Regions from separate parts of the Homo sapiens genome. Here region 2 is linked to region 1. The links come from fine-mapping of genetic effects on gene expression. A gene starts in region 1. The other region holds a variant in brackets. All regions are shown on one strand. Distances are from middle to middle.

Region 1 (5,371 bases):
GTAATTACATAAAGTAGTATCTAGCTCTTTAGTTCACGAATTACTAGTTATCAGTATCAATAGTATAGTATACTGATATAGCGTACTGATATAATATAGTGATCAGTGCATCATGATCAGTAATTAATTATATCACTTCTTTCAAAGTCTGTTGGTGACCCGTCACTGCAGATCCATTAGTCAGTTAAAGCACAGACAGAAGTGTGTAGTTGTGTCGCCTCCTTGTCTCCTAGTGATAAGCCCATGTGATGTTTTATAAAAACAAAAACTGAAAGAGGAAACTAGCCGATAAAAGGAGCAGCAAAGAAATAAAAAATGATAATGCCAGGAGTGAAATCTGAATCTAACATAAGTGGAGTTAAAGGAGAAACAGCTGACTATGAGAGTGTTGACACTGCCTCCACCTGATAGACTCTAGAGAAGCAGCCAGAGGAATTTAGTGAAGGCAAACTTATCAACATACTTGAGGAAAGTCATTGTGATGAAAAGGATGAAGACATCCTACAGAAAGGGCCACTGGCAAAAAGCTTCATTATTAAAGAAACTTTCAGAGATATTTTACAAAATTGAAGGTACAAAGGATAAAATGTAGGAAACTAACCCAAACTTAGAAAGAAGTATGTCAGTTTGCCAAGACACACAAAAAATGTTTGCTCTCTCATAAGTTTTACTATGAGAGTTTTTTTTCAACAAATAAAACACTTTAGCTCTCAATGTTTCTAATGTTTTAAGTTAGTGTATGAAATAGTTTTACTGTTTTACATTTCCCTATACAGTTAGTAAGAAAGTTTTAGTGTTTTGACAATTTTTCAAGGTTATAGAACAACTGTAATTTTTCCCATTGGTGTTTAAGATCTCTTTGAATGGTTTCAGCTTGCAGTCATTTTTCAATCCCACACTAATGTGCAATTGGAAGACTGTATTTTAAATGAGGTAAGAGGCAGCTCTCTTCCTTACATCCTCAAACATCATCAATTCATGCATCTGATGTGTCTGGGCATAGTACTAAACAGGCTCTGACCTTATTCTGACCCTATACTCTCCACTTTTGCCAAGAACACTCGCTTAATGAATTCTCCCTGCAAACTGGTTAAAACTGGAACTGGGCCTTGAACCACTCCAAACCACCAAGTTATGCCCAAACTAAAAACCCTCCAAGGACTTCCAATTACACCACTGGAAACAGAATCCAATATCTTTACCCTGGCCCTAAAGTTCTGCTTGTGCCTTCTGCCCAACTCTCCATCCTCACACTAGGCCCTCCCCTGCCCGCACCCCGGGAGATCCACCTCTCACAGATCGGCTTCTCGCTGTGTCTGCCTCTGCGGATGTTCTGTTCCGTGCTGAGCATTCTAGGTTAGGGCCCCTTTACAAGCCCTCATTCACTTTGTCGCGTGATAAACGATTCAATGGTTCTCCCTCTGGCAGGGCCCTATTAAAGATTTCGTGGGCCCTAAGGCACTTTCGTCTTCGTGGACCCCTTCCTCCATTAAAAAAAGATTAAAAGAAGTTAATGGATTTTGTAGGCCCTAAAAATCTCATTTCCCCCTCCTGATGTGAGAAAAAAATCAAAACACTTTCTTTGACTTCATGGGTTCACTTTAAACGAAATGAAAACATTCTCGTGGCCGGGCACGGTGGCTCACGCCTGTAATCGCAGCACTTTAGGAGGCCGAGGCGGGCGGATCACGAGGTCAGGAGTTCGAGAGCAGCCTGGCCAACATAGGGAAACCATGTCTCTACTAAAAATATAAAAAAATTAGCCAGGCGTGGTGGCGGGAGCCTGTAATTCCAGCTTACTCGAGAAGCTGAGGCGGAGAATCACTTGAACCCGGGAGGCGGAGGTTGCAGTGAGCCGAGATCACGCCATTGCACTCCAGCTTGGGCAACAAGGGTGAAACTCCGTCTCAAAAACAAAGCAAAACCAGAAGAAAAAAAATTCTCGTGGCTCCCTGAAGCCTCCGTGGTCCCTCGGCATGGCGCCTACCGTGCCTGGCGGATCAGCAGCCCGGCCCTCGGGCCTGGGGGCCCCGCGGAGGAAGCTCCGGGCCCAGACTCCGCGCAGGCCTGGCCGCCCAGAACAGTATGCGGAGGGATGACTCCGACAGCGATTTCGGAGCCTCTCTCGGCGTCAGTCTTGCGCCGGCACCCGCCACGGCCAGCGCAACCAACACCTGCCTGAGGACTGGCCCGAGCTCGGCCCACGCCCAGCCCAGCCTGCGAAGTGGTGCCGGCTGCTCTCGGGCTGCCCTCCCTCCCCGAGGCGTGGAGAACCGTACCTGTCTTCGGAAGACGGAGGCCCCCTCACCTGGTCCTCCCGGCTCTCAGCGTGCGCCCGCGCGTTCGGAGGCGCCCCCCTCAGGCCGGCGCGGCTGGGCGGGAGGCTCACTGCGGGCAAGGCGGGGCCTGGCTGCCTCAGGGTGCGCTTCAGGTGGCGCTTCAGGAAAACGGTCTCCAAGTCCCTAGATACCCTGAGAACAGTCCTTCTTTGTCCCTTAGGTAGAATTTTGTCTATTTGTTGGAAATGCTGTGCTAAACCTGACATTTTTCTTTTTCTACCCCTTCCCATGAAACATGCCAGTAGCTCCCCCACCGACCGTTTTCTTGGTTTTAACTTTTCCCTTCCACATCATTTCCTTCAGCCAGTCGCTATTTTGTTCACTAAACATCTGTGGTGGGCACGTTATGTGCCACGCATTGTGCTAGGATTGGAGTACAGTGGATGTACAGACAATGGTCACTGCCCTCATGGAAGTTATAGCTGCCTTCACAAAGTTCTTTTAAGTCTTTTCAAACTCCTGTATTCCAAGAGGGTCTGTCGCTCTCTTCATACTCATTCTCGCTTACTTGAGGTTGATTCCCATAGTCCCTTTGACGAACTCCAGATGGGGTAGGAGCGTCCTGGTCCTTAACAGTTGGTTGGTCTGGGTCTTCAACTCTGGTTAAAAAGGAATTCTCTGAATTAGTCCACAGGAGAGGGAAAGATAATGCTAGTTCCAAGCTAGAAATGTACAAGCAGTTTTCCTTGTTTTCTTTATTATTATTATTGTTATTTTCTCAGTTCATTGTCTAGATGCAGGTTGGAGGTGGGGTGGGGCAATATTTCAATGAGTGGCACAGGATAGGTTAGATGTTTCAACAGGAAAAGAGTTGCCTGCTTGTATTCTAGTCCCACTAAACCATTTTGCTCCTATCAACTGTTCCTCAGGTAAGAACAGAACTATTTAACCTATGTCCTTTTTTAAACACTATAATCTGATATTCAATAGAGTTCCTGTGTTTCAGTTTAAAGGGTAGCTTCTCAACAGCTCTTTCCCCCCATATAGTCCAAATTAGCCTTTCTGTCTCTAATCTCCAGATTATCGTTTCCACTGATGTTAGAATTGTCCTTGTAAAAATATTTTGATCATATCATTCTTTGTCTTAAAAATGGCTTATGTTTCCTTTTCGGTTAGAGGGTCCATTATAACTGACCCCACCTACCTTACTAGGCTCAACCCCAGCATTACCTGTCTTACTCCCCTTTGTGTTGCTATACCAGAATACCACAGAACAACTAACTTGTAAATAAAGGAAATGTATTCTTAAATTCTGGAGGGTAGGAATTCCAAGGTTGAGAATCCCACATCTAGTGAGGGCATTTTTTCTGTGTCATCCCATGGCAGAAGGCAGAAGGGCAAGGGGTACAAAAGAGCAAGACAGCAATAGGGAGCTGAACTCACTTTTACAACAAACCCACTCTCTCAATAACTAACTCATTTCCAAGATAATGACATTAATTCATTTATGGGGGCAGAGCCCTTATGGCCTAATCACCTCTTGTTAGGCCCCACCTCTGAACACTATTCCATTGGGTACTAAGTTTCCAGCAAATGAACTTTGGGGGACGCATTCAAACTTGAGCACTAGCCTCACTCCAAACCATACCACCCATTGCTCCTACCTACTATTAATTTCTTTCCGTACCCTCTATAGCATTTATTAAAAATATGCAAAGAACTGTACCAGAAATGGGGACTATGACATAAGAATTGTTTTCTGAGGGTGATAAACTATAATGGTCATGAGAAAGCACCTTGCAGACTTTAAACTACAAGGAGTGTAACTGACCAAGGGCATCAGCTGCTGCCTTAGAAATCTACTGCCACGACTGGGCTCCGTGGTTCACGCCTGTAATCCCAGCACTTTGGGAGGCCGAGGCGGGTGGATCACCTGAGGTCAGGAGTTCGAGACCAGCCTGACCAACATGGAGAAACCCCATCTCTACTAAAAATCCAAAATTAGCCGGGCATGGTGGTGCATGCCTGTAATCCCAGCTACTCGGAAGGCTGAGGCAGGAGAAACACTTGAACCCGGGAGGCAGAGGTTGCGGTGAGCCAAGATTGCACCACTGCATTCCAGCCTGGGCAACAAGAGCAAAAACTCTGTCTCAAAAAAAAAAAAAGAAAGAAAAAAGAAATCTGCCACATTTGCATGGAGGCCATCTTCCCAGCCACTGACTGAATGTGGTGGAGATACTAAGGCAGACCCATTCCTGGGAAACACTGCACTTCTCACACAGCACTCCTCACACAGCACTCCTCTAATGGGCAACATTGGCTTGATGATTCCCCAACAGTCTTGCTGAACTATACTCCAGTATGGAGTATAGTATGTGGAAGAGGAGTGTCAAAGATGAAGCAGGAGAGATAGGCAAAGGGCCAGAACATATACGATCTGTGGACTATATTAAAGATTTCGGATCTTATCTCATAGCAAAGGCGGGGTGGGCTGGAATGGGGAGATAAACTGAAGTGTTTAAGCAGAAGAGTGACATGATCTGATTTGTGTACTGGAGAGAACATTCTCCCTGCCTCCCTGCCTTAAAAGGAATGGATTGGGGGCTGAAATTGGGGTGGTGGCAGCAGGGCATAGGGACAAGACAAGAGTAGGAAGGAGCCCAGGCAAGAGAAGATAGTTGTTTGAATTAGGGTATTGGCAGAGGGGATGCGGAGATGTGGGAGGAAGTATTTAGGAGTTAAAATTAACAGGCCTTTATGATTGATTTGATTAAGAGGAATCCAAAATGACAGGGCCTAGAACATAGTAGGCATTCAATGAATACTTATTGAATAAACAAATGCAAAGTCTCTGGCTTAGACAGCTGGAAAGACAGTAGTGCTATGGGGAACATTGGTTTTAGCATCCACACAATTACCAGGATGCTATGAGGGTGGGGACGATAGTTCAGTTTTGGACATATTGAAATCAAGGTGCCTGTGGTTACACTGTGTGGAAATGTCCACTAGGCACTTGGATGTGTGTGTCAGAAGCTGAAGAGAAAGATATGGCCTAGAAATGTAGATTTAGAAAATCATTATTAACTAAATTA
Region 2 (5,371 bases), 160 kb before region 1:
TGGTGGGGAGTGCAGGGACCGGGCCCAGGGATCGAGGCTGGTACCCTGGGAGGGCTGACCCTCAGATGCACCCCGCTCTCATGTCCTTTCTTTCCTGTCTCTTTCTCCCTCCTGACAGATTACCTCCTGGGCCACTTGGATGATGAAGGGAAATCAACTGGACAGAGTGACAGGGGCAAGGGGGCTGAGGGACTGGGCACCTACTGTGGTCTCCGCAAGTCCTTCCTGTATCCTCCCCAAGAGTCTGAGCCCTGCCCTCAAAGCCCCTCTGCCTCTGCCACCTTCCCCAGTGTCTCAGACAGCCTGCTTCAGGTGGCCATGCCCCAGAAGCTCCTGGTGACAGAAGAGGTGAGATTCTCAGGAGAGGGCTTTGCCGTCCCCCAGGGTTCTTTCAATCCCTGTATCCCCATCCCTATATTCTCCCCTAATTGGTACCTTTCAAGATCCTTCTATACTGCCTGCCCCCTTTCATGTTTGCTCTCCATTTCCCTGTTTCTCTCTTTTTCTGTCACCTGCCCTTCGTCCTTCAGGAAGCCAATCGCCTGGCTGAGGAGCTGGTGGCTGAGGAGGAGCGCATGAAACAGAAAGCAGAGAAAAAGCGACTCAAGAAGAAGGTGGCTAGAGCATGGCTGGAGGGTGCAGGGGAGCCAAAGGGATTTGGGAGAGGGAAAGAGGAAACTTTGTGGGAACAGGAGAGAGCTCAAGATGGCCTGCAGTGGACTCTCTTGCCAGGAGGACACAAGGGGCCCAGGGACTGGGGGGTCTCTCACAGGCCATCTGGTGCAGTGGTTCTGGAATCCTACTGTGCTGCCTAGGTAGGAATCTGCCTCCTTACATGAGGCCTCTTGCTGGTGCCTCTCTTGTCTGCTTTTTCACCTGCAAAATGAGGATAATAATGATGCCTGTCTCATAGAGCTGCAAAGATGGAATGCGAAATCTTAGCCCAGCACACGACATACAGTAAGTGTTCAAAATACATCATTGTTACCATTACTATTGCAGCGTCAAAAGGAACGGAAGCGACAGGAGCGTTTGGAGCAGTACTGTGGGGAGCCCAAGGTGAGTATCTAGGGCAGGTACTAAGAGCACCAAGTGCCAGGAAGGTGAGGGCCAAGAAAGCAGGCAGCTCAAGGTGATCCCAACTCTGTACCTGTCTATCTTTCTTCCAGGCCAGCACTACCTCAGATGGAGATGAGAGCCCCCCATCCAGCCCTGGAAACCCAGTTCAGGGACAGTGTGGTGAAGAAGAGGTGAGAGCCCCTTTTTTCCCTTCTTGGTCTCTGCTCATTTTCCTCCTCCTCCTCCAGAATGTACTTCATCCCCACCCCCTCCCTAACTTTCCATTTTGTTCACAGGACTCACTGGATCTATCTAGCACTTTTGTGTCTCTGGCTTTGCGCAAGGTTGGGGATTGGCCCCTCAGTGCCCGCAGAGAGAAGGGACTGAACCAGGAGCCCCAAGGCAGGGGTCTGGCCCTCCAGAAGATGGGTCAAGAGGAAGAGAGCCCTCCAAGAGAGGAGAGGCCCCAGCAGAGTCCAAAGGTACAGGTGAGGTGGCTGAAGAACCTTATTCAGCTGGAACCGTGGAAGGGGCACAAGGAGCTGCTGGGGAGGCACAGGGTCTAAGGATTGACACAGGGTCCAGTGGGAGTTCTCTGGCTCTAGGGTCAAGAGACCTACAGTCAGGCCCCATCACTGTCACCATGACCCCGGGTGGTTTCCTGTCTAGGAAGATAGGGCTGATACCATCTTGTAGGGCTGTCATGAGGATTACATGAGTTGGGTAATGCTAATTGCAGTGTTACCTGTTTAAACAAAGGAGAAGGATTTGGGGAGGCTGAGACCTCAAGACCTGCTTGACTTTGCACCCTATCCCCAGGCATCTCCGGGACTGCTGGCAGCTGCCTTACAACAGAGCCAGGAACTGGCAAGTGAGATCCTTTCTCTCTCCGTCCTCACCCCACCCTCCCTGGGGTAGCCCCATCTGAACCTTCTCACCCTCTTTCCTTTCCAGAGTTGGGTACCAGCTTTGCTCAAAATGGTTTCTACCATGAGGCCGTGGTCCTCTTCACCCAGGCCTTGAAGCTCAACCCCCAGGACCACCGGTAGGTGGGGGCTTGGCCAGGGCAGGGCAGAGTGTTGAGGACTCAGACCTTTGGCCACCTTCTGTCTTTATCAGGTTATTTGGAAATCGTTCCTTCTGCCATGAGCGGTTGGGTCAGCCAGCGTGGGCCCTGGCTGATGCCCAGGTGGCCCTTACCCTACGGCCTGGCTGGCCCCGGGGCCTCTTCCGCCTGGGCAAGGCCTTGATGGGACTACAGGTAATAGGTCTGGGGCTGGAAACAGGAGAGATTTGAGTGGGATGGAGTGGGGAGAGGGTCTATGTTGACTTTCTAGATAAGCTTCTAGTACCAAAGTGTCACAATGGTTGTGGTACTAGGAGCAGGGGCCAGTTTTAGAAAGGGTACTTTTAAGCACCTTGACACCTAATCTTTTCTTTCTGATCCCTCTGGGACCAAAGCGCTTCAGAGAGGCAGCTGCTGTGTTTCAGGAAACTCTGAGAGGTGGGTCCCAGCCTGACGCAGCCCGAGAGCTCCGCTCTTGCCTTCTCCACCTCACACTGGTAAGGGGGCCAGGCACACTGTCATGCTGAGGCGGGTATCAGGGAGAATTGGCTGGGACTGCAATACCAAGCCTCAGGTGGCTAAGGAGGGGGCGGGGAAGGATGGGTGGAATGAGAGGCATGGGCT[C/G]TCCTGCTTAAAAGAAGGATCTGGTGCCCTTCTCTCTCCCTTCTCAGCAGGGTCAGCGAGGAGGAATCTGTGCACCACCTCTGTCACCTGGGGCCCTCCAGCCACTTCCCCATGCTGAGCTGGCACCCTCAGGCCTACCTTCCCTCAGGTGCCCTCGAAGCACTGCTTTGAGGTCCCCTGGCCTGTCTCCACTCTTGCATTATCCTTCATGTCACCGAAGCCACCCCAACCAGCCCCTCTCCCAGACTCAGAGTAGAAGGCCCCATCCTCTCAAGCCCCAGGACCCTTCAAAGGGCTGGGACATCCTGGGACTTGGGCTCCAGCATCTGTCTCAGGCCAGATGAGGGGGCACCGGTCCCTCATAGGGCAGGGCCATGTATATATCCCTTGGTGGGGGACATAGTGTGGTGACAGTTCACTGCATATTTTGAGACCTTATTCTCTAGATCCATAGTTAATGATGCCCTGGCAGTCATTCCTCTTGCCATGGGGAAGCTTCTGATGAGAGAAAGGAGCCCCACATCCACTGAAACATCCTTTGGTTCTCAAGCTTCTTCTGGAGGCAGTAAGGAAAAATAAAACCCACCAAGGCTCAAGAAGGGAACTATAGAAAAGTTCAGGTTTTTAGGCTATAGCAGAGACAGTGAGAAAGCATCTGGGCCTTTCTCTTCCTCTTGGTCCAGGGGACCTCATTCACCAACTAGAGCTTGGTGTACAGGAACGGGGTCACAGTGCTGAGGGGGCTTGAGTCCCACCTTTCAGCTTGATGGATGCTCACCTCTTCTCAGCCCCAGCTCGTGCCCTGTTTTTCTAGCCATAGCCCCCAGATTACTCACAGCTCCTCATGCCATTTCCTGTCCAGATTGCTATGTATGACTCTGACCTCTCTTGTCCAGTGGTCTGGTGCTCACCTCCTCTCACTGCTAGAATATTCACCAAGGGTTTGCATTTGGGAAGTCCCTTACCAGCTCCTGCTTAGAGCTGGTAGGGCCATACATGTCCACACTCCCAACTGGTGGCTCTCCCGCTGAATGGGGCCTCAGCAGGTGCCCAAGCTGCTACAACCTTGGCCACTCTGTTTCTCCACCCCAGCACTGGGCATGGTAATTAGCCTTTCCCCATGTTAATTTATTCAGTTTTTTCAAGGGTCAACTGAATTCCCCACTTCCTGGGTAAGAAGCATGATCTCCTTTTAATTTCACGTCTAAGATCCTGGCAGCTTCCCCTAGCTGGTTCCTCTGTAGTCCTGCTGGGACTGTCAGCTCATTTAAATGTGGGTCTGCAGAAGGCTTTAGGTCTCCCCCAACCCCCTTACCTTTCACAGAGGAACCTTTCATCAGGATAAATGATTATTGCTGCCCTGTGGGTCTTGCTCAATACTGTTCATACCTGGAGAGAGAAGGTATTGAAACATCTCCTTTATGTGTGACTTTCCCAAATTTTTAAAAATTGTTTATGGTTTAGGCCCCTTAAATACTGTGTAGCAGGATGAAGTCTACCATTACCAGCTGGGTCACCTTGGATGGGTCTGTCAACATCTAAGCCTCAGTTCCCTCACCTGTAAAAATGAGGGTAGTCCCTACCTCATAAGGGATATTGTGAGGATGGAAAGCGAAAGTGTGAGAAAATACCTCCCAAGTGCCTGGTACATAGTGGGTGCTAAATAAACCACTTTTTGTCTGCAACTGTCCTACATAGTCATGCTTCCCACAATAGGAAGAGAGGAGTGTGGGTGAATTGGTGCTGAAATTCACAAAATCCAGAGTTCTGGGACTGGATTCTCAAAGTGTGCTTTCTAGGCTAGCAGCATCAGCATCATCCAGGAACTTACTAGAAATGCAATTTCTCAGGCTGGGCACGGTGGCTCACGCCTGTAATCTCAGCACTTTGGGAGGCCAAGATGGGTGGATCACCTGAGGTCAGGAGTTTGAGACCAGCCTGACCAACATGGAGAAACGCCTCCTCTGCTAAAAATACAAAATTAGCCAGGTGTGGTGTCACATGCCTGTAATCCCAGCTACTCGGGAGGCTGAGGCAGGAGAATCGCTTGAACCTGGGAGGCGGAGGTTGCGGTGAGCCGAGATTGCGCCATTGCATTCCAGCCTGGGTAACGAGCAAAACTCTCAAAAAAAAAAAAAAAAGAAATGCAATTTCTCAGGCCCCCTGCAGTGACCTACATCAGAAACCATGGGAGCAGGGCCCAGCAATTTGTGTTTCAATAAACCTACCAAGTGATCCTGATACACACTGTTCAAGGGCGGGGCTTAGCGGAGCAGACCTCCATCCAGAGGCCATTTTGGTGGGACAGGTTTGAGTTTTGTTGTCCAAGTCTTCAGTATAAGAGGTGGCAGTGCTAGCTGGGCTAGAATTTGGGAAACCTCAATGGGGAGAGAGGTTATGACTCAGCCAGTTAATTTGACTGGACCCTACCTTCCTAACTAGAAGGATTTGCCCTGAGAGTTCTTTGCTCACCCCTGGTTGGGGAGCAGGATGGGCATAGGTGGTTGTGTTTGTCCAAGGGGTGATTATATTACAGTGGTTCCATAAGAGGCCTGCCCATCTGGCTTTCCTGTTTTTGAGCAGGGACCTGCATGCTTTTGGGATGTCTGTAGGGCTCCTGAC

What was found. PIP is the estimated chance that this variant, and not a neighbour inherited with it, causes the effect. A credible set is the group of variants that fine-mapping cannot tell apart.
Region 2: its variant is the best candidate, but not a certain one, in a credible set for the expression of M1AP in whole blood (INTERVAL, PIP 0.80).

Annotation. Positions count from the first base shown.
Region 1 is chr2:74,645,986-74,651,356 of GRCh38, forward strand. It overlaps M1AP (meiosis 1 associated protein), which reads right to left and starts at 2,345. Exons shown (of 11, transcript NM_001321739.2): 1 at 2,280-2,345.
Region 2 is chr2:74,490,126-74,495,496 of GRCh38, forward strand. It overlaps TTC31 (tetratricopeptide repeat domain 31), which reads left to right. Exons shown (of 13, transcript NM_022492.6): 3 at 1-2; 4 at 119-348; 5 at 531-614; 6 at 1,003-1,059; 7 at 1,170-1,250; 8 at 1,356-1,547; 9 at 1,879-1,930; 10 at 2,014-2,104; 11 at 2,179-2,320; 12 at 2,521-2,622; 13 at 2,797-4,434. The coding sequence ends at 3,093. Among named protein-coding and RNA genes, the nearest start is that of LBX2, 6.8 kb to the right of the region's middle. The variant C/G (reference allele first, on the strand shown) is at 2,750.